7 linked regions of the Homo sapiens genome follow. The protein of the gene in region 7 interacts with the protein of the main gene of each other region in a biochemical or structural test. Each region holds a gene or a part of one and is shown on either strand. Other genes may lie near its edges. The genes, in order: XKR7, SLC34A1, MARCHF3, HTR2C, RTKN, UQCRC2 and HTRA3.

Region 1 (3,979 bases), on a different chromosome or scaffold from region 7:
AGGATGCCCCCTCTCTGAGCCTCCATTCCCTCATCTGTCAAGTAGAAATTATAATGCTAACCACATGACAGGATGATTAGAAGGGGTACAGGAAATAAAGCAGGTAAAAAGGCAACCAGTAGGCTTGGCACAAAGTCAGTGTTTAATAAAATAATTGTTATAGAACTGTAAATTAGGGCTTTCATGTCTAAGTGAAATAGTACAGATATGATCAAAGGGAAAGATGGACAAATTAGAGCACATAGACTCTTTCTAAATTGTTACAGGATTGATACTGCTAGATCCAATTTTTTTAAAGGGAAGCTACGACTCTGGGTTTTTAAAATACTATGCAAGCCACACAAAACACTTCCACAAGCCACATTCAACCTAAGAGCTATTAGATTGTTATCCCTACAAACTTATCTCATCCCAGCCTCCTCATTTTGCAAATGGGAGATAGTAGAAATAGCTAGTCCTTTTATCCATATCCAAGAAACCATAGAGCTGAGGGGATCCTTAGCAATTCTAGCTACTCCCCTGGGACCCCACACCCATGGCCATTTTTGCCCTATTTGAGGGAAACTCAGTTTATGCTTAACAAAGAAGAGAAGTATTAGTTTCTTGTAAGTGGATTCTGAATGGGGGGATAGCCAGTGAGTCGAGGGGCATCTGGCCCACTTTAGGCTGAAGGAAAAGGGGGATGAAGCTTCCTACCAAGAATAGGAAGTTACCATTTCAGAATCTAAAAATATCTTTCACCATCTGTCCACTCGGGCACAGAATGATAAATGCAGATTAGTTCCTGGATGTAGACATGAATATTTTTATGTGTCACGCTAATAATAATAACACCACCTTGTGTGGATAGAGCTCCGCCCCCTTTTCCTCCAGGATAAGCTAAGTGGAATATACACATCATCTTGGCAGGAATAGATAGGGAAACAAAGGCAGAGAGATTCGACAACACAACAAGAGTGACACAGCAAGTGAGCAGCTGGGACAAACCCTAGGAGTCCTGTTTTCAACCCTCAGCCCCAAACTGAATCTTCTGAGTTAGGCAGAATGTGTTAACAAGTAGCAGAATAAATATAACAACAGCAGTAATCACCCTTTATATCTCTAGAGTGACTTTTTCCATGCTTTCCCCACACTCTTAAAATGTTACAGTCTGCAGGGCCCTCATGCAGACCTCTCACCTGACCATCCCAACAGGTAAGAATAATGCAATGATAAGACAATGAGATAAGAGGAGTAGGGATTCTCCCTCATTTCACAGAAGAGGAAACTGAGGCTTGGAAGGAGGAGGGCGGCTTGCCTAAGATCATATAGTAAGCAAGTTCATTCTGTTAGAGCACAGAAGGGCCTAAGCTACTAAATAGCAATTCAGATTCAAGAGGAGCCCTAGGTTTAGAATTCCTCCTCTCTCCACTTAACTCAGTGCAGCAGGCACCCTCAGTTCTGGCAGAGGAAGAAGACTGAAAGTGGGCAGCTTGAACAAAGCCTCAGTTTTGCCTTACCAGTTCGGGATTAAAGGGCAGCCAGTGGCCATCTAATCTCAGATTCAAGATTCCAAATCCCCTTGGCCCTGTTGGAAGGGGAGGACCCTTAGCTGGGGGAGAGGGGGTCATAGGAAGTAGAAGGAGCCTGAGGGCTCCCCAGTTGGGTCCAGCATATCTTTCTCCAAAAAGTCCAAGAAGTTTAGGCGGGATATTCATTTAGCTGTCTCAAATTCTGTGACTCTCCTTGCAGGTTGTGAATGAGCTGCAATTCTGAACTGAGGATCTTTGCGAGCAGGAAAGGACTTCTGAGATCTTTCCTGAGCCCAGGCTTGGCACTCAGGCAGAGAGGAGTGGGTTATGGCAGAATAGGGCCCTGTGGTCCTGTTTTAAGCTTCACATTTATCTTCATGAGCCCCGGGTCCTCCCCACTCACGCACACCCCTGAGGATCTCTTTCTCTCCTTTCTTGAACCATCCCCTCCCCTCTCGAAGGCCAGGTCAGACCGGATGGCACTGGGGTTGGTCAGGGCTTGGGGGCAGAGGTCAGGGAGAAGCCGACTGAGAAGAAATTAGAGCTGCAATGGGGTGGGGAGGGGGGGAGGTCAGGACAGGAGGGTAGCCCGGAAAGGTCAGATCAGGGCTGGGACGTCAGGTAGCCCTTCGCCACCCCCACTCCTCGGGCTCAGGTCCCTCCACCTGCGCTTCTCCTACCTCCAGACCTGGCCGAGCTGCAGGAGGTGGACGAGGGTCTGCAGCAGCCAGATGCAGAGGCGGCAGCAGCGGCGGCGGTAGGCGCTGGCCGAGGAGGGCGCAGGCTGGGGACCCGGCTCGGGGCTGCCTTCTTTGGTCCGGAAGGCGCCGGCGCTGTCCTTGGTGCTGATGGCGGCTCCGCCGGCTACGCTGTCCTTGGTGCTGACGGCGGGTCCCGGGGACCCTGCGGGCTCCGAGTAGTCGTAGACGAACCAGCGGAAGCTCAGTAACTGCACGACCAGCGAGGGCAGGAGCACGAACAGCAAGGTGAGGCTGAAGTAGGTGTGTTGATTCTGCAGGTAGTAGGAGGCCGCCAGCCACAGGTCCGTGGCACCGTCGGAGAAGAACACGAGCAGCGCGCACAGCACCCAGCAGCAGTCCCGCAGCTCGTAGCGCGGCCCCGGGCCGCCCGCCCCGACGACCCCCGGGGGCCCGGCCGCCGCCGCCGCCTCCCCGCGCCCGCCGGCACTGCCCCGGGCTCCACCGGCAGCCCCCTCCGGGTCCGGGCTGGCCGAGGCCGCCGCTCCATCCGACTTCGCGGCCATGTTGGCGGAGAGGGAGGCGGGGAGCGACTTCCGGGCGGCGGAGGGGGGTGCGGCGTGGGGAGGACCCTGCGCGGGCGGCTCCTCTTCCTCCTTCTCCTCTTCTTCCTCCTCCCCTCCACTTCAATTATTCATTCTCCTCGGCGCCGCCCCGCCCCGCCCCCACCCGCCTGAGCTGCGGCCGAAGGGGGGGCAGCCCCCGGGAATGCGGAAGCAGGGGAGGCGGGGCGCACCCCAGGTCACCCTCTCCCTCCTTCCTCGGAGGCGCGGGGCTCCAACCCCATGCTTTCTGTCTCTCATCTCCCCTCGGACTGCACTTCCTTCTTTTTTGTTTATCGCCTCCCCCTTCCCATTCTCTCCACTTCGTTTTTCTCCTGTGTTCACCTCCAGTGGCCTGGGTCTGACGGGGGGGTGGGTGGGGGACTTGGAAGAAAGGAGCTGGGGGACTTGGGCGGGCCCCCCAGTAACCCTTTAGCAGTCACTCCATGCTAACGCTCATTTCCAGTTTCCTGAGTGCTCACATATTGTTCCATCCCCTCCTTTGATCTTGAGGGGTCCCCTTTTCTTATTGTCTTCGTTTTGAAGCTGAGAAAGCTGCAGCTCTGAGTTGCTGTCTCTTCCTTACTCTCCGCTTTCCCTCTCTCGGGGACTGCCTTCATCTGGCTACAGCCCTAGTAGAGTAGGGGGAGGGAAGGGGACAACATCCAACATCAAGAGGAAAGGGATGGGAGGAAACACCGGGTGGAGGAAAGAGCAAGTGCAAAGGCCTGGAGGCCTGAGACTGGAGGGCATATCTTCAAGCAAGTCTGGATCTCAGATCCAGGGGAGGAGAAAGATGGGGAAGATAGGGCTGCAGAGTTCTGAGGATGAGATCCTAAGGGGCCAGAAGGTGGCCTTTATCCAGCAGGCAATGGGGAACCACTGCAGTATTTGAGCAGGGGAGTTATGTGGTCACATCAGGATTTAGAAAGAAGACCCAGCAGCCAGAGTAGAGAAGCGATCACAAGGAAGCAGCCTGGGGCTGGTGAGACCAGAAGGAGATTATAGCAGTAACCTATGAGAGGGGGTGGAGTTCCCACACATCCTGGATACCCCAAGCTCATTTCCCATCTCTGCCTTTGATCAGATTGGATGTATCCAGGCATTTATTATACAAACATCCATATAGTAGTGTCTCTTTGCCTGGCACTGTCCAAAACACTACAAT
Region 2 (3,950 bases), on a different chromosome or scaffold from region 7:
AAACTTCAAAAATATCAAAAAGCACAACCTTATTAAAAAGGAGAAACACCCCCAGTTCACCAGGAGCACCTTGGATTCAGCTGCTCCTGCCAAGGGTCTGAACTGCACGGGGGAATGGAGAGAAACAGGTCACGTGGGCCGGGGTCTCTGGGCCCGCTGTGGGGGTGTCAGTTTGCTCATAGGTGGAGACACTCGATGTGACATTAACAGCACCTTCAAGCCCAAGGACCCAGAGATTCTGACACAAGAACTGAGAACTGATTGCATTTCCGTGACTCAGCGACACCCTCCTACCTGGGCATGAACCCAGCCCTAGCCAAAGATCCAGAGACCCGACTCCCATCTATTTCCTTTTCCTCTCTCCCTCCCCGTCACCAATTCTACTGGTCAGATGTCCCTGGGATGCACCTGTCCTCCCCAGCCCCTCCGTTCCCATCGGAGTTCAGGCCTCATCATCTCCTGCCTGGACCATTAGCCTCTTAACTGGCCCCTCCGCTTCCAGGCTCCCTTCCATATATCCGGGTTCCACCCCGGGGGCCATTCTAAAAGGCAGATCAGGCCCATCCCAGTCTGGCCAGCGGCTCCACATTCACTCAGACTCACATCCTGGACCCATGGTCGGGCATTAGAGACCTGCCACGATTCAACATTCCACGGCCTTTCCAGCTTAGGTCCTCATCTCACACTCCCTCTCCTCTGAGCTCCCCCTGGGAGACTTACAGACACCCCGACGCTTGGCAAGGCCATAGGATGTTTTTGTTTGGTTTGGTTTGGTTTTTCTGAGACAGTCTCACTCTGTCACCCAGGCTGGAGTGCAGTGGCACGATCTTGGCTCACTGCAACCTCCGAAGGCCATAGGATGTTTGGGTCATTCCCTGGGGAGTCCTGTCAGGCCAGGAACGAGGGGACCCTGGGAACAAGGTGCTGAGTGGCATCAGGGTCTCTGCCTGCAGGCGGGGGATGTGTCTGGGTCGTGGTTGATGGGAAGAACCTGACCATAGATTCCCCATGCAGAGCTGACGATTAGCAATTAACTGGGAGGAATCTCAGGGGTGAGGTTAATTGGGGGACAGAGGGAGGGCAGCTAGGGTTCCAGGGACTTTGCCCTTGACCCAAGAGTATAAAGAGGAGGGTCTCAGTTCTCCTCAGGGTCCTGGAGGCTTCATTGAGCTGCTGAGCAGAAGCTGAAACACAGAATTCTAAGGTGAGCCCAGGACCCTCACATCCCAACCCCACCCCCAGCTCTGAGTAGGAAACAGCCCAGCACCCCAGCCCCTTCATCTGTGTCCTATCTGCGCCCACCCCCACCGCGCCCCATATAACATGTCAGTCCAGCCAATCGCGGTGGCTCCCACCTGTAATCCCAGCACTTTGGGAAGCCGAGTGGGCGGATCACCTGAGGTCGAGTTTGCACTAAAAATACAAAAAATTAGCCAGGTGTGGTGGCAGGCACCTGTAATCCCAGCTACTTGGGAGGCTGAGGCAGGAGAATCGCTTGAACCCACGAGGCAGAGGTTGCAGTGAGCCAAGATTGTGCCACTGCACTCCAGCCTGGGCGGTAAGAGTGAAACTCCATCTCAAAAAAAAAAAAAAAAAGGACTCCTGCTCCTTCAGGACTTGAATTCAACTCTTCACACCCCTACAACAGCCAAGGACGCTGGGACAATGCGGGGAGTGCTGAGGCAGATCAGGGCACTCCACCCCAATAGCCAAGACTCCTGGGGCAGTGCGGGGACAAGGGGGGGCTGAGGCAAGCCTGTCAGTGTTTGTTCATTGCCCCTTGAGGGGGTGGATGGGGAAAGGAATTCATTGTGAGGGGAACCCAGGAACTCGGGATCCGGCCCAGGGGATCTCCGTGTGTGCCCAGCTGACCCCATGAGAAGGCAGGTGTCTGCAGCTCCTCCTTGCTCTCCAGGTGGGCAAAACTGAAGCCCGGCCCAGCCCCAGCCCACACCTGCAGCCACTGCCAACACCACGTATTCCCTGGCCCCCTCCAGCCCCAAACAGGCTGGGCGTCCTCAGTTCTCAGTGTCTTTTATCAATGCTATATCCAAGCCTCTGGTTCGGAGCCTGGGCTAGAGCTCAATAATACTCATTGAATGAGTGAATGGTGAATGAATGATCACCTCACCACCACCACACACACCCCTCCGAGACTCACATGCAGGTGCCCAGCACAGATGTGCACATGTGAGTCTGCATGTGAGTCTCGGAGGGCTGTGGTGGTGATGATGGAGGGTGTGGTTTGCTGGGTGTGTGTTTGTGCGTGTGAGTCTCGGAGGGGTGTGTGTGTGTGGTGAGGATGGAGGGTGTGCTTTGCTAGGTGTGTATTTGGAATCATGCGCCATGGGGGTTTGTGCAGGTGAGGGTGTGTGGGCATGAGTGTCCCGGACACAGCTATTGTCATTCAGCGTTGCTGAGACCCACTGACCTGCAGACCTCATAGTGGGTGCCCAGGATGTTGTCCTACGGAGAGAGGCTGGGGTCCCCTGCTGTCTCCCCACTCCCAGTCCGTGGGGGGCATGTGATGCGAGGGACGGCCTTTGCCTACGTGCCCAGCCCTCAGGGTAAGTGCTGCTCCCACACCCTGGACCCTGGTTGCCCACGGTTGCCCACATCCCGGATGAGGCCACTTCCCCCGCCTGTTCCTCCCCGCCTCCCCACTTTGGGGCCCTGGGGCTCCTGACCAGGCTCCCTCCCTAGTCCTACACAGGATCCCGGGGACCTCTGCCTATGCCTTCCCCAGCCTGGGCCCTGTGGCCCTTGCTGAGCACACCTGCCCCTGTGGGGAGGTCCTGGAGCGCCATGAACCACTGCCTGCCAAGCTGGCCCTGGAGGAGGAGCAGAAGCCAGGTGGGCCTGGGCTGGGGGTGGCAGAGGCGGCAGCAGTCCCTGCCCTGGCCTCTGCCCACTATGCTCATGGCTTCCCCCATCCAGAGTCCAGGCTGGTCCCCAAGCTGCGCCAGGCTGGCGCCATGCTGCTCAAGGTGCCACTGATGCTCACCTTCCTCTACCTCTTCGTCTGCTCCCTGGACATGCTCAGCTCGGCCTTCCAGCTGGCTGGAGGTAGGGCCCGGGTGGAGGAGACCTGGGAGGGGTTCCTGAAGGGCCTTGGACAACGCTGGCTCATGCTCCCCAGGGAAGGTGGCTGGTGACATCTTCAAGGATAACGCCATCCTGTCCAACCCGGTGGCCGGGCTGGTGGTGGGGATCCTGGTGACCGTGCTGGTGCAGAGCTCCAGCACCTCCACATCCATCATCGTCAGCATGGTCTCCTCTGGCTGTGAGTTGGCCCACCAGGGTGGGGAAGAGCTTGGAGGGGCACCCCAGGAGCTGGGAAGGGTGGCAAATGGGGAGCGTGACCCCAGTAAGGCTGGCCTCCATTCAGCTTGACTCCTGTATCAGCCAGGGACATGAGAGGAGCCCAACTGTAGCTGTATGTGACCCAGATGATTTATGGCAAGGAACTGGCTTCCCCGATGGTAGTTTGTCTGGGCAAGTCAGGAATCCGTAGGCCAGGGCATTGGAAGGGCAGGCGGGAACTCTCAGGTGGGCGCCGACACTGCAGTCCAGACAGGGCAGCGTTTCTCCTTTCTCAGGGAAGCCTCAGTTCTGCTTGAGGCCTTTCATTCTATTGGATTAGGCTGACCCAGGTTACCAAGGATAATCTCCTTTTCTTAAAGTCAGCTGACTGTAGACGTGAATTGCATCTACAAAACACCTTACAGAACACCCAGGCTAGTGTTGGGTTGAATAACTGGGTACCACAGCCTAGCTAAGTTGACACATAAAACTAACCATCACTGGCCGGGCGCAGTGGCTCATGCCTGTAATCCCAGCACTTTGGGAGGCTGAGGGGGGCAGATCACGAGGTCAGTAGATCGAGACCACCCTGGCTAACACGGTGAAACCCTGTCTCTACTAAAAATACAAAAAAAAAAAACAACAAA
Region 3 (3,173 bases), on a different chromosome or scaffold from region 7:
GATACTGTATGGAATTTTCTGAACACCTCTTTAACGTATGAGGAAGGTTGTCCTGCTACGGATGCAATTCAATTCTTCCTTTTTTATTACTATTTCAAACACACACACATATATATATATATTAAACTTAGATGATAATCAAAATCAAAAAGTCAACGTAAAAACTGGTTTCTTGGTTTGGTTGGGTCTTATTTGAGTTAGTTTGTTTCTCAGTTTCTCGTATGGATTCTTTGGGGTACTTTGGTAGCCTGAGTGGTCTTTTTCATCTCTTTCGCGTCCATTACTCAAGGAGACAGCATAACAGATGCAGAACAAGTCATATTTGAAGAATGTTTTGTACTAAACTTCATTTAATTATTCAGTTTTTAAAGGGAAAAAGGGCGTGAGCTCACACAGTGAGCTGTTTATTTAAATATCATTAAGGAGAAAAAAAAATATGGTGAGAAGCTCGCTCCTTTCAACTTGTTTGGTACTGACAGCTGATAGAAGCTATTTTCTAATAATAAACATCCAGTGTGTGAAAGACAAAACCCACTGATTGCAATACTCTTTTTTTAATGATAAAACCTGTGAAGTTTCCCAAAGCAGGTTTTAAAAGGAAAAAAAGGAAAAGCAAAAAGGTTGCTGTTCTCACTCCCATCTCATTTAGTGCATGTCTTAATTCGGGATTCGTAATGAATTGGAGGATCATTAGACATTTCTAGGAACCCTAGACCTGTTTTGCATGTCAATTAGCATTCCCATTGCTCTATTGAATTTCTAGCTTGACAGGTAGATGTGGCAAAAAAAAAAAAAAAAAAAAAAGCCTGTCCTAGCAGCCCTGCACTTATTCTAAGACCCCTTTGTCTGATTCTTTAAAAAGGAGCCCCACACAGTGCCTTCCCCCAACCATGAGCCAATTCTGTCACAGTCCGAAATAGACTTTTTCTAAGGGTTTCGTGTCCCTCTTTTATCCGTCGCAGTGTAAAGGGTCTGATCCGCAGCCTGCATTGTGCGCGCACCGAGGCAGGAGCGGATGTCTTCTGAGGAGAGCGCTGGCTGGGGTTGACTCTCAGGCTCCCGGCTGTCCGCCCGCCCACACGCAGCGAGGAGGGGCGGAGCCCTGCTTCCGGAATGCTTAAAATATGGAATTCTAGAACATGACCCACATTCTGAGTATCACTCCAGCATCTGCCTTGTGTTCCAAGTGGGAAAACGAGAAGTGCAAAGGAACAGGCAGCGAGGAGGGTAGCGATTTTTGTCTGCAAATTGATGGAGCTGATGCAGGTGTCCCCTTTGTAGGCGAGCCCTCCATTCACTGGCTGCTCCCAGCGCTGCCTGGGGAGGGAAACAGCTGTACTGCTCTCCGCTGCAAAACTCAGATGTGCTTTATGGCTTGTGACAATAGATTTCCTCCCCACCACGCTTCACTGGGACACTTCAATTCCAGTAATATATGTCTCAGCCCTTCTGTTTACTGCGCCCTGCTCACCCCCCTGGGCTGTCATTAGCTGCACCACCATCAACCGTTTCTTAATTGACCTTTTTAAAATGCTGGACATCACCGGCTGCACGCAGCTGCCACACATTAAATTTCCAGAGCAAAGAGTCCAACTTGGTAGCTGGTGAATTGCAGCCCTGTAATATACTTAATAAATGACGTCCACCCAGCCTTAGTCCCTGAGCTGTCAGGTGAACCCGTGACACGTCTCAACTGAATGGCACAACATTCATGAGAGGACCATACCCCTTCTCCCTGTTTCTTGCATGAATTAAGGAAGCAGCGGATTTCCAGGATGATTTCCTGTCAAGGTTGGCTGCAGAGAATTCCTGCCATCTTGGTTCATGAGATGAGATATGACATCATCAAAGGCAGCCAGGTCCCAGGCCGTTCAATGGGGATCCTGCATTAGGAAGGGTTTGCACATTAAAACTGTGCCTGTGCCACACCTCTTTCCTTCGTGTTTGCATCCCTGCCCTGTGAAGTAAAACAGAGTCCAAGATGCAAGGAGTAGATTGTGTGTGGGGTGGTGAAAGGACACCCCTGGCAGCCAGGCAGAGCATCAGTGCCTCCCTTCCCAGGTCACCAGCTTGGGACCTCCTTGTGAGAGGCTCTGATCTCCATCAGCATCAGGGCCCATAGGGGATTCTGAACTCTTGGAGGATATTTCATCCCCTCCAAGCCTTGCCCCATGGAAAGGGCTACACCTCCTGCAGGAAGGGGTGCCTTTTGTTAACAGGTATTAATGGGTACAGAGGCACCATGCAGCCTACCAGCACCCTTGCTAGCCTAGTCCTCTTCCTGTGCTTCTTTTTGAAAGATCAAGAATGAAGAGGAAGAGATGAGGAGTGGGGGTCCTTTACCTAAAGGACCCTCGTGGTTCATTGCTTCTCTTTAACTGACTTTTTAAAAAAACTCCCTCTTCCACACTCCTTGCTGTGATTCTGTCCTAATCATTTTTCTTGAGAATGTCATGTAGAGATAAATGTGTGTCACAGTGAAGCCAGAAGGTGAATTAACAACTAAGACAAATCCAGCATGCTCTTGCCTGCCCTGCATATGTGCTCATTTGGGGAAGGACGGAGGACACAGAGCATCGACACAAATTCTACAGCTCCTCAGAGAACACAGCAGAGACTCAGATGAGCTGTAAAATCCATTAAGGAAAAATAAATGGCATGATTTGGAAGTTACTTTGATTTGTCTTTCATTGTCCTAGTCTCCCCTGCCCCTAGTGCCTGGGCCCTGCCGTGGATTGTCACTTTCAGTGGGGCTGTAGCCATAGGCATTTCATTTTCAGTGAAAATAATTCATCTGCGGCATGGAGGAGCCAAAGGAGAAAATGGAGGTGAAATCGCAGCCCAAGTGACCCCACAGTTGGGCAAGCAGCCAGCTTCCGGTTCCACTTCCTCCTAGATCCTTATTGTTCCCATTGGGACACTGACCCTGGCTGGGCTCTGGGTCTGCGCCTGCACCGTGCATCTTTCTCCCATATTGGAATCCGCTCAGCCTTGCCTGACACTCCACACAGCTTATGGAGCTGTCCACACTAGGAAATGACCCATGGCCCAAAGAACCTGAGTAGGAAAGACAGCTAGAAAATGAAATCAGGAAATGCTTCCTTTCCACTTCAATCCAGAGTGTTCCTAGAAGCTGCCTGAAGATCTGCCACACAACTTGTAGTCCCTAGTGC
Region 4 (3,500 bases), on a different chromosome or scaffold from region 7:
GATTTGCAAAATCTAAAAAGTTTGAAAATAAACTTCATTAGCAAGGCTTTGGGGAAACAGAGGCTTTCTTGCATTGCTGGTGGGAATGCAAAATGGTTCAACTCCTAACTACATGTACCCTTTGATCAATCAACTCCTCCTCTAAGAATTTATTTAGAAGATAAATTCTGAATACATTTGAGCAAGAATTTATTTAAAAGTTAAACTTCCAATAATATGAAACACACACATGCACGCGCGCGCGCACACAAACACACAAGACAGACACACATGCACGCACGCACACACAAAGGACACACACACACACACACACACACACACAATTATTCTTAGTAGAATTATTGGCAACTTCCAAATGTTGGAAACAACTTACCTGATTATACACAGAAGATTGGTTAAATAAAGTATATCAACACAATCTATTATTAGTGAGTGTAAAAAATAATAGAATGAATTTAGCTTTTAATTGGAGTATTTAGGCCATTTACATGATAAAGTTGGGTGCATATCTATCATCTTACAAATTGATAGAGTGATTTCCAGGACATATTTCCAAGTAAAAGAACAAAGCAAAACAAAGTATTAATTTGTATGTAGCATTTTAACTTTTAATTTAAGAATGGAAAAATAACAATACGTGTATTTGTGTATAATCTTTTTTTTTTTTGCAAAAATAAATTCAAGAAGTATGCCCTAGAAACTAATGAATGGGTTAACCACGGAATAGAAGAGGAACTGACTCTTCTCTGAGTATTTTATTTGCCTAGTTTTGACTGTTGGAGCATCATATTAAAGTTTTACATATTAAAAAATAAAGTCAACAAGGTTGGGGAATACATGCAAAAACAAAACAAAATCCCTAAATGTGAACAATTGGTATCAGAACCACAGAGAAAAAAAATTCAAACTAATCCTAGCATTTTGAAGACAATGCTTTGACTATATGCCATTGGTGGAAAACATTCTAAAGATAAAATTGCAATGAAATTTTAAACATTGCATTTCATTTATTGGTAGTGGTATGGGTATAGAAATTCTGAAATTAATTTCTTGTATGGTAGGATATAGAAAATATAAATAATAAATATATCAATGGTTTGGGGACAAAGTTACTCACTGTGAGAAAAATGAGGAAAAATAAAGAATTGGAAAGTAGCAAGAGTCCTGTGTTCGTGAATTGGGATTAAAGGTATTGATATATAGGAGCAATGATATCCTATTAGCAATGAGCATACTGAGCTTCTGCATCCTGCTTTATAAAACCATTGCCCACTAAAAGGGTTTCTTGTAAGAAATGGCTAATTTCGGAACTGGGGCATGGAAAGTAAAAGGTGAGTCTGGCAAATGCTCAAAAGCTGATGGGATATATGAAAAGGAGTTCTTATTAGAAAAATATGAGACAATTTGAGCATCAAAATAATTAAGGGCAATAATGAATCATATATATTACACTGAATACAAAAGAATCCAGGAGTCTCCACCAACATGAACTAATAAATAACAAAGACTTGGAGGGAAAACACTTCCTTACAGTATAATACCAACAAATAAAGGCAGGAAGAATAATAAAATGAGAAAAATTATCATTGTATCACCTTAGTAATAGATAGCTTAGGGAAGAATCATCAATGGATTTGAAATCCATTAGGTCAAAGTTTATTGGGAAACAATTTCTTAATTTCCAAATATACGAAGGTTTTTCTACTATTTTGAAGTCATTTCTATTTCTTTTGAATTTCAGTCAAAGAATAAACAATTTATTCCAACCCTTTGGAATGTGTTGAGGAATTACTTTATGGTCAGTTTTGATAAATATTTCTTGTGCAATGATGGGAATATGTATTCTTCACTTGTCAGTGAGTTCAGGTTTGTTAATTGTTTTCATACAATCGCTGAGAAGGATGTGCTAAGATCTTATGCGATGATTGTAGACTTGTCTATCTGTCCCTGAAGTTCTGTCCTCTTTTACTTTATAATGTATATACTATGTATATTACATATGTATCTACATATAATTATGTACATACAAATTTATTACCTTATGTCTTCCAGATGTATTAAATCTTTCATAGTAAGTAATCTTCTTTCACTGGAGTATTTGTTTTTTGCCGAAAAGTCTATTTTGACAAATATTAATATAGCTATACAGTCTTTCTCTTGGATAGTGTTTAGATGGAGGAATTTTTTTGTTTGTTTTTATCCTTTTACTTTCTTTATGCTTTATATATGCCTCTTGTAACATATAGTTGTCTTATTTTTTTGAAAGCCTATATGACAGTCTTAGAATCCTTAGTAATTCATATAATTAGGGATATATTTGGTTTTAATTCTGCCATTCAGTATACGTTTTATATTTTTCTATCTTTTATTGACTCCTTTTGGATTTATCTTATTATTTCATTTTATCTTTTATTTGTAGAGACAAAGTGTTGCTTTCTCATCAAGGCTGAAGTGTCATAGCACGATCATAGCTCACTGCAACCTCAAGACACTTGAGTTCAAGTGATGCTCCTGCCTCAACCTTCTGAGTAGCTAGGGCTACAGGCACATGCCACCATACCCAGCTAATTTTTAATATTTTATAATAATCTTCTGTAAATTTGGAAATTCGCCATCTCTAATCTGCCACAGAGTTCTTAGGTTTTCATTTTTTAATTAATTAATTTTTTTTGTGTGTGTGACAGAGTCTCACTCTGTTGCCCAGGCTGGAGCGCAGTGGCATGATCTCAGCTCACTGCAGACTTGACCTCTGAGGGTCAAGTGATCCTCCCACCACAGCCTCCCAAGTAGCTGGGATTACAGGCGTGTGCTACCATACCTGGCTAATTTTTGTATTTTTAGTAGAGATGGGGTTTCATCATGTTGTCCAGGCTAGTCTTGAACTCCTGGCCACAAGTGATCCGCCTGCATCGGCCTCCCAAAGTGCTGGAATTACAGGTGTAAGACACTGCCTGGCCCTTAGTTTTTCATATTATGCTTAAGTTCCATATTTTCTAGGTGTTTCTCAAATCTTAATGTCATTTGTTATAGTTTGCAGTTTCTTGCTGAAGTGTTTAAGATCAGCATGTAATTTCCATGTGCACATTCCAAATGATTATTTAAAGTGTATGTCTGATAATTCAATTATCTGAAGTGTTTGTAAGTTTATTTCTGTTATCTCTTATTGTCCCATACCTGATTCATGTTGTATTGTCTCCTCATATATCTGCATATCATTGTATTTCAGTGACAGCATTTGAAAATTATTGAAAGAAATAAGTTGAAATCTAGGATTATGGGGTTTTTTTTGTTTGTTTATGCCCCAAAATTGGAAACCTGAATAATACGAAATCATCTTAATCCAATTTTAAGGCCCAAGATTTCTCTCATTTACATAGATGACTTGAACCAGGGCTGAATTCCATGTCTATGGTGATTTAATCCTGGTCGATCCTTATTCCTAGTGTCTGGTTTTTTTGTGATCCCAGAATTAAATTCAGGTTGGTTGGCCCTTGCCAGAC
Region 5 (3,500 bases), on a different chromosome or scaffold from region 7:
CAAAGTATAGCGTCATTAAAATAAGCATCCCTGCCATTAATGTATACCACATGCTGGGCACTGTGCTAAGTGCTTTAAGTTCCTGCCTCACAGAATTCTCACAGCCCTAGGACTATTTCCATTCCTGATTTACAGATGGGGAAACTGAGGCTTAGGGAGGTTGAGCAAATTGCCCATTGCTTTTTAAGAAGCAGGACCTCCAGGGCTCCTTTCTAAATGAATGTTCCTGAGAATCCTGGTGTCTCTTCCAGGGCCTCTCAGCTGGCCCTTATCCACAGTCCCTCATTCCTGGACCACCTACCTTCCCATCCCCATTCCTTGCCTCTGACCTCATCTCCCAAGCTCAGAGGGCCGGTAGGTGGTGATTCTCTTAATTTGGGGTGTATAGGTTTCTGTGCAGCGTCAGTGAACACTGTAGGTGGTATGCTCCTTGTCCACTGATCCCTTGCCAACTAGATGTCCCTGGCATCACTTGAGTCTGAGGGATAACTCTCATTTGCCTTTCCTTCTGTCCATTCCCATGAGTTGGTGGTTCTCAACCTGGGTGTACCTCAGAATCACTTGGGGAGTTTTCCAAAAGTACATATGCCCCACTCCTAGAGATTCTTATTCTGCAAATCTTAGGTAGGGCCTGATCATTTTTTTTTAAACTCCAAAGATCTAATATTTTTTAAAGGAAATACAATTTCCAGTAGTACAAAGGGTATATATAAAGTATCATTAGGCTGGGCGCAGTGGCTCAAGCCTGTAATCCCGCACTTTGGGAGGCCGAGGTGGGAGGATCACTTGAGGCCAGGAGTTCGAGACTAGTCTGGCCAACATGGCGAAACCCTGTCTCTACTAAGAATACAAAAGTTAGGCCAGGCATGGTGTCTCACACCTGCAATCCCAGCACTTTGGGAGGCCAAGGCGGGTGGATCACCTGAGGTCGGGAGTTTGAGACCAGCCTGGCCAACATGGTGCAACCCCGTCTCTACTAAAAATACAAAAATTAGCTGGGTGTGGTGGCTCACACCTGTAATCCCAGCTACTCCGGAGGCTAGGCAGAAGAATTGCTTGAACCTGGGAGGCGGAGTTTGCAGTGAGCCGAGATCATGCCACTTCACTCCAGCCTGGGCAACAGAGTAAGACTCGGTCTCAAAAAAAAAAAAAAAAAAGAATACAAAACTTACTCGGGCGTGGTGGCACATGCCTGTAATCTCAGCTACTCAGGAGGCTGAGGCACAAGAATCACTTGAACCTGGAAGGTGGAAGTTGCAGTGAGCTGAGATCGCGCCACTGTACTCCAGCTTGGGTGACAGAGTGAGACTCGGTCTCAAAAAAAAAAAAGTATCATAAATGTTTTCCATCCCTGGCTCCCAGGCCTACAATCACTAATATTTTATGCATAAACATGCATATCTATATCTATGTATATATATGCATGCATACATATATATATATCATGCACAAATGGTAGTATGTGCAATACTACCCTTCTTTTCTCACATCATTTATTTTGGAGATTGTTTCATATCTGCATACATGTGCATATCTCTTTCCTTAATGTCTGCAATACTACAGGGTACAGATGTACTGTTACTTATTTAACCAATGTCCTACTGAAGGGGTTTTAATTTTGGTGTTTAAAACAATGCCACAATGAGGCCGGGCGCGGTGGCTCACGCCTGTAATCCCAGCACTTTGGGAGGCCGAGGTGGGCGGATCACAAGGTCAGGAGATCGAGACCATCCCGGTTAACACTGTGAAACCCCGTCTCTACTAAAAATACAAAAAAACAATTAGCCGGATGTGGTGGCGGGCGCCTGTAGTCCCAGCTACTTGGGAGGCTGAGGCAGGAGAATGGCATGAACCCCAGGAGGTGGAGCTTGCAGTGAACTGAGATCGTACCACTGCACTCCAGCTTGGGCAACAGAGCGAGACTCCGTCTCAAAAAAAAAAAAAAATGCCGCACTGAATATTTTTGTATGTATGGCTTTACCTAGATATATGTGAAATTATATGTGTAAGATAAACTGCTAGGTATTGGATAGCTGAATTAAAGGATATATGAATTTGTAGTTTTCATAGATTTTTTTCCAAATTGCACTCAAAAGAGGCTGAAGGAATTTATACTTCCAACCATCAAATGCATGAGGGCATCTCTATTTTTCTTATTTGTTTTATATATATATATATATGTTTTTTTTTTTTTTGAGCCAGAGTCTTGCTCTGTCGTCCAGGCTGGGGTGCAGTGGTGCAGTCTCGGCTCACTGCAAGCTCCGCCTCCCGGGTTCATGCCATTCTCCTGCCTCAGCCTCCCAAGTAGCTGGGACTACAGGCGCCCGCCACCACGCCCTGCTAATTTTTTGTATTTTTAGTAGAGACGGGGTTTCACCGTGTTAGCCGGGATGGTCTCGATCTCCTGGCCTTGTGATCCGCCTGCCTCTGCCTCCCAAAGTGCTGGGATTACAGGCGTGAGCCACCGTGCCCGGCTGTTATATATTTTTTTAGAGGTGGGGTCTCACTATGTTGCCCAGGCTGGCCTTGATCTCCTAGGCTCAAGGGATCCTCCCACCTCAGCCTCCCTCACACACCACTGCACCTGGCTACAAAGCTTCTCTGGTTATTCGTGGGCAGCTGAGATTGAGACCCAATGCCTGCTCTTGAACTGCCTAAAACATTAGTTTCTTGTCAGTTTTACTGGCCACAGCCCACCTGGGGACTGGGGAGTGCTTTAGCCTGTCCACTGACTGACATTTCCTTCTCACCCTTCCCCCAACCCTGGCTAGGACACGGAGTTGCAGAGGAAGCTAGACCATGAGATCCGGATGAGGGAAGGGGCCTGTAAGCTGCTGGCAGCCTGCTCCCAGCGAGAGCAGGCTCTGGAGGCCACCAAGAGCCTGCTAGTGTGCAACAGCCGCATCCTCAGCTACATGGGCGAGCTGCAGCGGCGCAAGGAGGCGCAGGTGCTGGGGAAGACAAGCCGGCGGTGAGCAAGGGGGAGACGAGGCCTCGATGGAGGCAGGAGGCCTTCTGGGTGGTGGTGGTGCAGCATGTGCGTGTGTGGCATGTGGACCACCTTAAAGATGACTTCCCCATGAAGTCTTATCAGGGACCTGGGAGAGACCTTGGTGTTTTACCACCACTGTGTGTTGCCCAGAGGCGCATTTGTGAGTAGCCAGGGCAGGACTTAGAAAAGTCGGTGTGTCTGGTGAAAGGTAGCTGATCTGAAGGGTAGCAAGTAATGCAAAAGCACTAATTTGCTAAGCCCTGTCTGTGATCCAGTAAGACTGGCTATCTGGCTTTTGGAAAATTAATTTCCTCAACGCTGGTTCACAAAATCACCAATTTACCACATACTGACAATAGTTTGTTATATCTGGGGTTCACCTTCAGAGGCAGGGAGTGGGAAAGGAAATAAGAAACCACTTAAGGAAAGCCTACCCATTCAAACAAATTAGATTGTGCATTCTAAAAGGGCTCAGCTTCTGGATGTAAAATGTAAGCAACACTGACAT
Region 6 (3,500 bases), on a different chromosome or scaffold from region 7:
GGGTGAAACGCCATCTCTACTAAAATACAAAAAATTAGCCAGGCGTGGCAGCATGTACCTGTAATCCCAGCTACTTGGGAGGCTGAGACAGGAGAATCGCTTGAATCCAGGAGGCAGACATTGCAATGACCCGAGATCGCACTGTTGCACTCCAGCGTGGGACACAGAGCACGACTCCAACTCAACAAAAAAGGTTGTGGATGGGGTGATCTGACACTTTTTCAAAAAATGCCAAAGCTTTAGAACTACACAGAACCATGAAACTTTTATAAGGTAACTGAAAGATAAGAAAATACAGTGATTCTTTACATCATTTAAAAAATAAGCATCAAGAACTCTATAAATCACTAATAAATAGAGGTTTAAGAATGGCTTGGGTAAACTGGTGGGTTAGTAAGTCCATAATAAGTTATGCAGCTAGGCGGGGTGCAGTGGCTCACGCCTGTAATTCCAACACTTTGGGAGACCAAGGTGGGCAGATCACTTAAGATCAGGAGTTCAAGACCAGCTTGGCCAACACAGTGAAACCCCATCTCTACTAAAAAATACAAAACAAAAACTAGCTGGACATGGTGGCACGCACCTGTAATTCCAGCTATTTGGGAGGCTAAGGCAGGAGAATGGCTTGAACCCAGGAGGTAGAGGTTGCAGTGAGCTGAGATTGCGCCACTGCACTCCAGCCTGAGCGACAGAGAGACACTCTGTCTCAAAAAAAAAAAAAAAATGTTATGCAGGTAAATCCTCCCATGGAGGTGGTTATTGCTCCTTCCACCCCCGAACACCCTCTGTCGCTTGGGTACCCTAAGATACCATGCTTTTATATAAAGCACTGTTCTTGTGAGAAATACGTGTAACCTGTGTTTTTTATGTTTAGAGATTTTATTCCCTCAAAGTTGCCCCCAAAGTTAAAGCCACAGCTGCGCCTGCAGGAGCACCGCCACAACCTCAGGACCTTGAGGTTAGTCCCACTAACTTGCTCGCTGGAAGCTATACATGCCTTACTCTCCTTGGTAATACGAAGACATTCATTATATCTCTACTTTATTTTAAATACAGTTTACCAAGTTACCAAATGGCTTGGTGATTGCTTCTTTGGAAAACTATTCTCCTGTATCAAGAATTGGTTTGTTCATTAAAGCAGGCAGTAGATATGAGGACTTCAGCAATTTAGGAACCACCCATTTGCTGCGTCTTACATCCAGTCTGGTGAGTATCTTCACTTCCTCAAGTGTTTGGAAATGCTGTGGTATCTTGGTCCTGTGAAAAAGAAAAACTAAGATCAATGTCTTTATATTTTGATTCCTTGACCTGCCATAACAAATTACCACGGACTGGGTAGCTTAAACCAAATAAGTTTATCCTGTTACAGTTCTAGAGGCTAGAAGTCCAAGTCAAGGTGTCTAAGCCAAGCCAAGATATCAGCAGGGCTGTGATCCCTCTAAAGGTTCTAGGAAGGCACAAATCCTCCCCTGCCTGTTCCTAGCTTCCAGCAGTTGCCCACAACCCTTCATGTTCCTTGACCTGCAACTGCATCACTGCAGTCTCTGCCTTTGTTGTCACATGGCCTTCCTTCTGTCTGTGTCCACATTTCCTCCTGATAAGGATACCAGTTACATTAGATTTAGTGCCCACTATAATTCAATATGATGTCATCTTAAGTACTTAAATCTGCAGAGACCTTATTACCAAATAAAGTAACATGCAAATATTCTGGCTGGACATAAATTTGGGGGGGAACACTGTTAAACCCAGTACTGTCCCCTAATGTAAAATGAGAAACCACAAGATATTTGCCACAGAGAAGCACTAAATTAGTATCCATATGAATGTTGATGTTAGAGCATAAGAAATCAGTAAACAAATTTTTAACAGGAAGTGCCGCAAATTGAAAGAAAATTAACTCTTTTTTTCCCATATACAAGTCTCTTTCAGAATAGACTAATGAATCCAGTAAGCTTGTATTTGACAGTGGAAATTTTACATGAATGTACTTAATGTAAAAATGTATACTTAAGCTTTTTGTTGAGCCTTGTTTTATAATTCTTAACTAAAAAGGATGCAGGAATTTAGTAAAATTCTTTTTAAATCTGCTCACAACAGATTTTGATATAGTGTGATGTTTGGCAAACTTGGCATTGAAAAGCTACAAAGATAATCATTCTTTCTTTTTCAAGACGACAAAAGGAGCTTCATCTTTCAAGATAACCCGTGGAATTGAAGCAGTTGGTGGCAAATTAAGGTTTGTTAAATAAGTAATAGAAAATAGTGAAAATGCCAGAAAATATTCAATTTTAAGGGAACTTTTCTCTGTTATCAAGGAGGTTGAGGATTTCTTAAGCAACATAAGAAGGAAAAGACTGATGAATTTGAGTATATCAAACTGTAAAACATCTTTATGTCTTAAAGTAAAAATTTAAGTAACTGTCTGGGAGTAGATATCTGCAATATATAGGCATACCTCAGAGATGTTGCAGGTTCTGTTCCAGACCACCACAATGAAGGGAATATTGCAGCAAAGCAAGTCATAGGAATTTTGTGGTTTCCCAGTGCATATAAAAGTTATGTTTACACTATACTGTGGTCTACTAAGTGTACAATGACATTTTGTCTTGGAAAAAAAGTACATAACCTTAATTTTAAAATATTTTATTGCTTTAAAAATGTTAACAGTTATCTGAATCTTCAGCAAGTCATAATCTTTGCTGGTGGAGGGTCTTGCCTCCACGTTAATGGCTGATGACTGATCAAGGTGGTGGTTGCTGAAGGTGGTGGTGACTGATAATTTCTTAAAATCAGACAACAGTGAAGTTTGCTGCATTGATTGACTCTTCCTTTTGTGAAAGACTTCTCTGTAGCATGAGATGTTGTTTTTAGCCGTTTACCCACAGAACTTCTTTCAAAATTAGTCAGTCATCTCAAACCTTACCACTTTTTTATCAACCAAGATTATGTAATATTCTTTTTTATCATTTCGACAGTGTTCACAGCATCTTCAACCAGGAGCAGATTCTATCTCAAGAAACCACTTTGTTTGCTCATCCATAAGAAGCATCTCCTCATCTGTTCAAGCTTTATCATAAGATTGCAGCCATTCAGTCACATCTTCAGGCCCCACTTCTAGTTCTCTTGCTACTCCCACCATAGTTGCAGTTTCTTCCCCCTCTGAAGTCTTGCCTCTCAGAGTCATCCATAAGGGTTGGAATTGGCTTCTTCCAAACTCACGTTAATGTTGATACTTTGACATCCTCCCATGAGTCACAAATGTTCTTAATGGTGTCTAGAATGGTGAATTCTTTCCAGAAAGTTTTTTAATTTACTTTGCCCAGATCCATCAGCGTCTTCACTATCTGTGGTAGCTGTAGCCTTACAAAATGTATTTCTTAAATAATAAGACTTGAAAATAAAAATTACTCCTTGATCCATGGGGTGCAGAAGGGATGTTCTATTAGCAGGCATGAAAACAGTGTCAATCTCCTTGTACATCTGCATCAGAGCTCTTG
Region 7 (3,500 bases):
CCCGCTTCCCTATTGACCGACTCCACTCATTCATTCATTCTTTTACTCATCCATTGGACACTCACTCATTCCCTCCCTCACTCATTCATTCTGCCACTTCCTTCACTAACTCATTCCTCCCCTCACTCATCCATGCACTGATTCGTGCGTTCACTCACCCATCCCTCATTCCTCCCCGCTCCGGCCACACGGGCCTCGGTGCTTGCGAGCTGCCCCCACTGCCCTGCATCCACTGGCCCAGCTCCCGGGGTGCCTACTTCAGGCTTAGCTTGTGAGGCCTCCCGAGCCCCCGGTTCCCACTGCCCCGAGCCCTGCTCTCTGCCTGCCATGCCTCTGCTCCTTGCACACACACCTGCTGTCTCCTGGCATCTCCTCCGCTGGGTTCTGTCTGTGTCTGCTTTACTGCACGGCCCCTCAGGACGACCAACACATTGCATGTATCCAATAGCATGGGCAGCAGCATGAAGGGACAAAGACCCACAGCTGTGCACCTTCTTGGTGCCTACAGCTCCAGCAGGTGCGGAGTCACTTCAGCGGGGATGTCCTTCCCCAGGGGCACACAGGCAGCCAGCAGATGTGACTGAGGTCAGCCTGACCCCAGGCCACTCCAGTTTCTGTGGCCCAGGCTGCAGAATCAAGCCTGGTTTGGGCCCCAGCAGCTGGCGGGTGTACCAGGGGACACCAGGAGGCAGAGAGGGGCGAGGGGTATTCACCCACCTCAGGAAGAGCTCTATGTGGACCACGGCTGGTGCGATCTTCTCCACCACGTCAGCAATGAAGTTGAACTTGTAGCGCGGGCTGCTCAGCTGGTGGAGACCTGCGCTGGCGGGAAGGGCCAGGTGCATCAGTGAGATCACGATGCTGCCAGCTCCCAGAGGCCTATGCCCAGTGGGCAGAAGGAGGAGGCTCTTCCTGAGACCCCTGTCCCAGTTCAGAGCCAGCCTCAGCCCACACTGAGCCCGTTGGGGACCCCCTACCACACAGCAGTGCAGTGACACCAGGCATTTGGGAAGGGGCTCGCTCACCCCGAGAATGGTTAAAAAGGCTTCCACGTGCTGGGCTTCCTCACCCCCCTCACTGGACCCTGCTAGGCTGGGCAGGAGGCTCAGAGAGAGGTTAGGATATTGCCGTGAGCCACACGGGAGTGAGGCCAGGGCTGGATCTCGGGTTAGTCCCCCTGGGCCTTGTCTGTTCCCTCATGCTACAGCAATACCCTTACAGGAGAGAACTGGCCCTCTCCTCATGGGCTCCAGCTGGTCCCTCCGAGCCCTGGGGCTACAGCAGTGTCCAGGCGGGGGTGTAGTGGAAGACCCCCAGGTGACCCTTCTGAGCTACCCAGGCCCGGACACAGTGTGGCCCCTCTGGGCCAAAAGAGCTGCCAATTTCTGAGTCCACAGGGCCCTACATCTGTGTCTAACTTGGCCACACCCCAGCCCGACTTGCTAGATGGTTCACGAACTTCCCTGGACCCTTCCCGGGCTCAGATTCCTGCTGCCGTCAGCAGTAGGGGCTGTGGCTGCCAGGACCACAGGCCTGAGGCATGCAGTGGCACGGGGCCCACAGCCCTCGGGGTTCCCTGCACGGGCCTGTGCCGGGCTCTCTCCAGTTCCCACCATCTGGAACACATGCTGCTCAGCCTCGCTCGTGGCTCCCGAGCCCCGCAATGAGCAACTGGGCTGGGGGCTGCACACACCAGGGGTTCGGCTGGGCCTGGCTGCTTTCTAGCTGTGTGGCCTCAGACAGATTACTTACGTTCTCTGGGCCTCAACTCCTCATCTGAAAAATGGGACTGAATATGCCCTCCTACCACATCTGTGGGAACTGAGTGTGGAGGACTGCAAACTTCGAGTCCCTGCCCGGGGGGCTACCCACCCACCCAGCCACCTTGGCAATGGGGAGCAAAGAGGGCTCAGTCCATAACGTCCAGCTTTCCAGCTTTGCAGCCCACATTTCTCTTGATCTCTGGGAAGTGGCCGGGCATGGGGACCGAGGGAAAATCTGGTTTTCTGGATCGTCCAAAGGCACGAAGGTACCATGGTGGATGCCACTGTGGGGGCAGGGCCCGGGCCGCGGTCCGTGCTCTAGGAATCATCACAGGGCAAACACAATCCCCAGGCACATCCCAATTCATTCACCCAACTCTCCAGGGGCAGCCAGGGGAAGGAAACTTTTCCTCTATTTTAAAGGTGGGGACACTGAGGCTCTGTAAGAAGAACCCCCCTGCCCAAGGACTCACGGCTGGGAGGGGAGAACCAGGATCTGAACGCAGGCCGCAGGCCTCCTTTCCCTGGGTGCCCCCACCTCTGCCCTGCAGCTCCCCAAGGCCCTGAAGAGCCCTTTAGCCTGAGCTGGGACCTAGGGGGTTGGCTCGAGCTCTGGTGTTGGGTCTCCCAGACTTCCGATGTCTGCCTCTCAACCGGCCCGCAGGCACCAACCACACCAGCCCTCGTCCACTTCAGTCAGCCTGAATCAAAGGCCACCTGTCTGGGGTGGCTAGAGCCTGGCTGGGAGACGCCGGCCACCGCGAGGCTCCTCATAGATCAAACCACTGCGGCAGAGCGGGGTCTCAGGTTCAGAGGTCACATTAACAAACACCCCAGGGGCAGGGCCTGCTGTGGGCCCAGGGCTCTCTCTGCCCACGTTTGCTTCCATGAGGGATGCGCTGCCCTGCTCGACACCTACAAAGCAGGCGGCTCCCTTGGTGAGGTGAAGCTGCCGTGCGGCCCGAGTGGGCAGCCCAGGCCTGTCTGCTTCTCCTCCCTGCCCCTGGGAACTTGAGTTCATTTTCTAGCACCCAAGTAGAGAGGAAGGACACCAGCCACAAAGCCTGCTTCCCTGGTGAGGTTTGGAGCTGGTTCAGAGCTCTCACAAGATGCGCTCAGACCCACAATTTCCACGACCCAGAGGGATCCCAGGGCAACCCCCAGGCCCAGGCCCTCCTCCCTCCAGGAGGGAGGACTCAGCCGGTCTGCTGCTCCCCTGTGTGCCCTGGGGCCTGAGGCTGGCGCCCCATGTGCCTCGCCTGAGGAGAAGCGCCAGGGCACGGGCACAGCCCCCAGGTGGGACCATATTACCTCTCCTACCGTGTGGCCTTTGTCGGGCCACCAACTCCAGTTTCTGCTCATCATCCACCTCTCTACACCTCCCCCTGCACGACCTCTCTCTACTCTCCCTACCAAGATGCTCTGGTTGGTCCTGGGCCCGGCCCTAATCCTGCCTCCTCCAGGCAGCCCCGCAGCAGCCCCAGTTGTACCGAATCTGCCGCTGCTCACAGCCTTATTCAAGCCACTCGTGCAGGGTGCCTCCTGTGTGCCCACCTGTGACAGCTGCTGGAGACACAGTGGTTCAGCTGGGGGCAAGGGTCAAGTCAGTGACCGACCAGAGACAGCACAGCATCACCAGGGATGAGGCAGAGAGGAGCCCGGCGTGGGGTGGGTGAGTGCAGAGGTGCCCTGACCCAGGCCTGGAAGAGCCCACGGGCAGGGGCACAGCACATGGAA

What was found.
Region 1: the proteins of HTRA3 (region 7) and XKR7 interact in a test that uses a peptide from one of them, tested with the Homo sapiens proteins (one large-scale study listed by IntAct).
Region 2: the proteins of HTRA3 (region 7) and SLC34A1 interact in a test that uses a peptide from one of them, tested with the Homo sapiens proteins (one large-scale study listed by IntAct).
Region 3: the proteins of HTRA3 (region 7) and MARCHF3 interact in a test that uses a peptide from one of them, tested with the Homo sapiens proteins (one large-scale study listed by IntAct).
Region 4: the proteins of HTRA3 (region 7) and HTR2C interact in a test that uses a peptide from one of them, tested with the Homo sapiens proteins (one large-scale study listed by IntAct).
Region 5: the proteins of HTRA3 (region 7) and RTKN interact in a test that uses a peptide from one of them, tested with the Homo sapiens proteins (one large-scale study listed by IntAct).
Region 6: the proteins of HTRA3 (region 7) and UQCRC2 interact in a test that uses a peptide from one of them, tested with the Homo sapiens proteins (one large-scale study listed by IntAct).

What each region holds. Positions count from the first base shown.
Region 1 is NC_000020.11:31,966,972-31,970,950, reverse strand, and holds the start of XKR7 (XK-related protein 7), read right to left. Parts: upstream 2,801-3,979; 5' UTR 2,776-2,800; coding exon 2,192-2,775; intron 1-2,191.
Region 2 is NC_000005.10:177,383,284-177,387,233, forward strand, and holds the start of SLC34A1 (sodium-dependent phosphate transport protein 2A), read left to right. Parts: upstream 1-1,150; 5' UTR 1,151-1,204; intron 1,205-2,411; 5' UTR 2,412-2,458; coding exon 2,459-2,567; intron 2,568-2,703; coding exon 2,704-2,853; intron 2,854-2,937; coding exon 2,938-3,066; intron 3,067-3,139; coding exon 3,140-3,283; intron 3,284-3,950.
Region 3 is NC_000005.10:126,867,214-126,870,386, reverse strand, and holds the end of MARCHF3 (E3 ubiquitin-protein ligase MARCHF3), read left to right. Parts: 3' UTR 1-2,673; downstream 2,674-3,173. UniProt on the Homo sapiens protein: E3 ubiquitin-protein ligase which may be involved in endosomal trafficking. E3 ubiquitin ligases accept ubiquitin from an E2 ubiquitin-conjugating enzyme in the form of a thioester and then directly transfer the ubiquitin to targeted substrates.
Region 4 is NC_000023.11:114,849,586-114,853,085, reverse strand, and holds part of HTR2C (5-hydroxytryptamine receptor 2C isoform a precursor), read right to left. Parts: intron 1-3,500. UniProt on the Homo sapiens protein: G-protein coupled receptor for 5-hydroxytryptamine (serotonin).
Region 5 is NC_000002.12:74,431,938-74,435,437, reverse strand, and holds part of RTKN (rhotekin), read left to right. Parts: intron 1-2,771; coding exon 2,772-2,971; intron 2,972-3,500. UniProt on the Homo sapiens protein: Mediates Rho signaling to activate NF-kappa-B and may confer increased resistance to apoptosis to cells in gastric tumorigenesis. May play a novel role in the organization of septin structures.
Region 6 is NC_000016.10:21,956,361-21,959,860, forward strand, and holds part of UQCRC2 (cytochrome b-c1 complex subunit 2, mitochondrial precursor), read left to right. Parts: intron 1-874; coding exon 875-958; intron 959-1,056; coding exon 1,057-1,206; exon of another isoform or gene 1,207-1,224; coding exon of another isoform or gene 1,225-1,257; intron 1,258-2,174; coding exon 2,175-2,239; intron 2,240-3,500. UniProt on the Homo sapiens protein: Component of the ubiquinol-cytochrome c oxidoreductase, a multisubunit transmembrane complex that is part of the mitochondrial electron transport chain which drives oxidative phosphorylation.
Region 7 is NC_000004.12:8,279,754-8,283,253, reverse strand, and holds part of HTRA3 (serine protease HTRA3 isoform 1 precursor), read right to left. Parts: intron 818-3,500; coding exon 718-817; intron 1-717. UniProt on the Homo sapiens protein: Serine protease that cleaves beta-casein/CSN2 as well as several extracellular matrix (ECM) proteoglycans such as decorin/DCN, biglycan/BGN and fibronectin/FN1.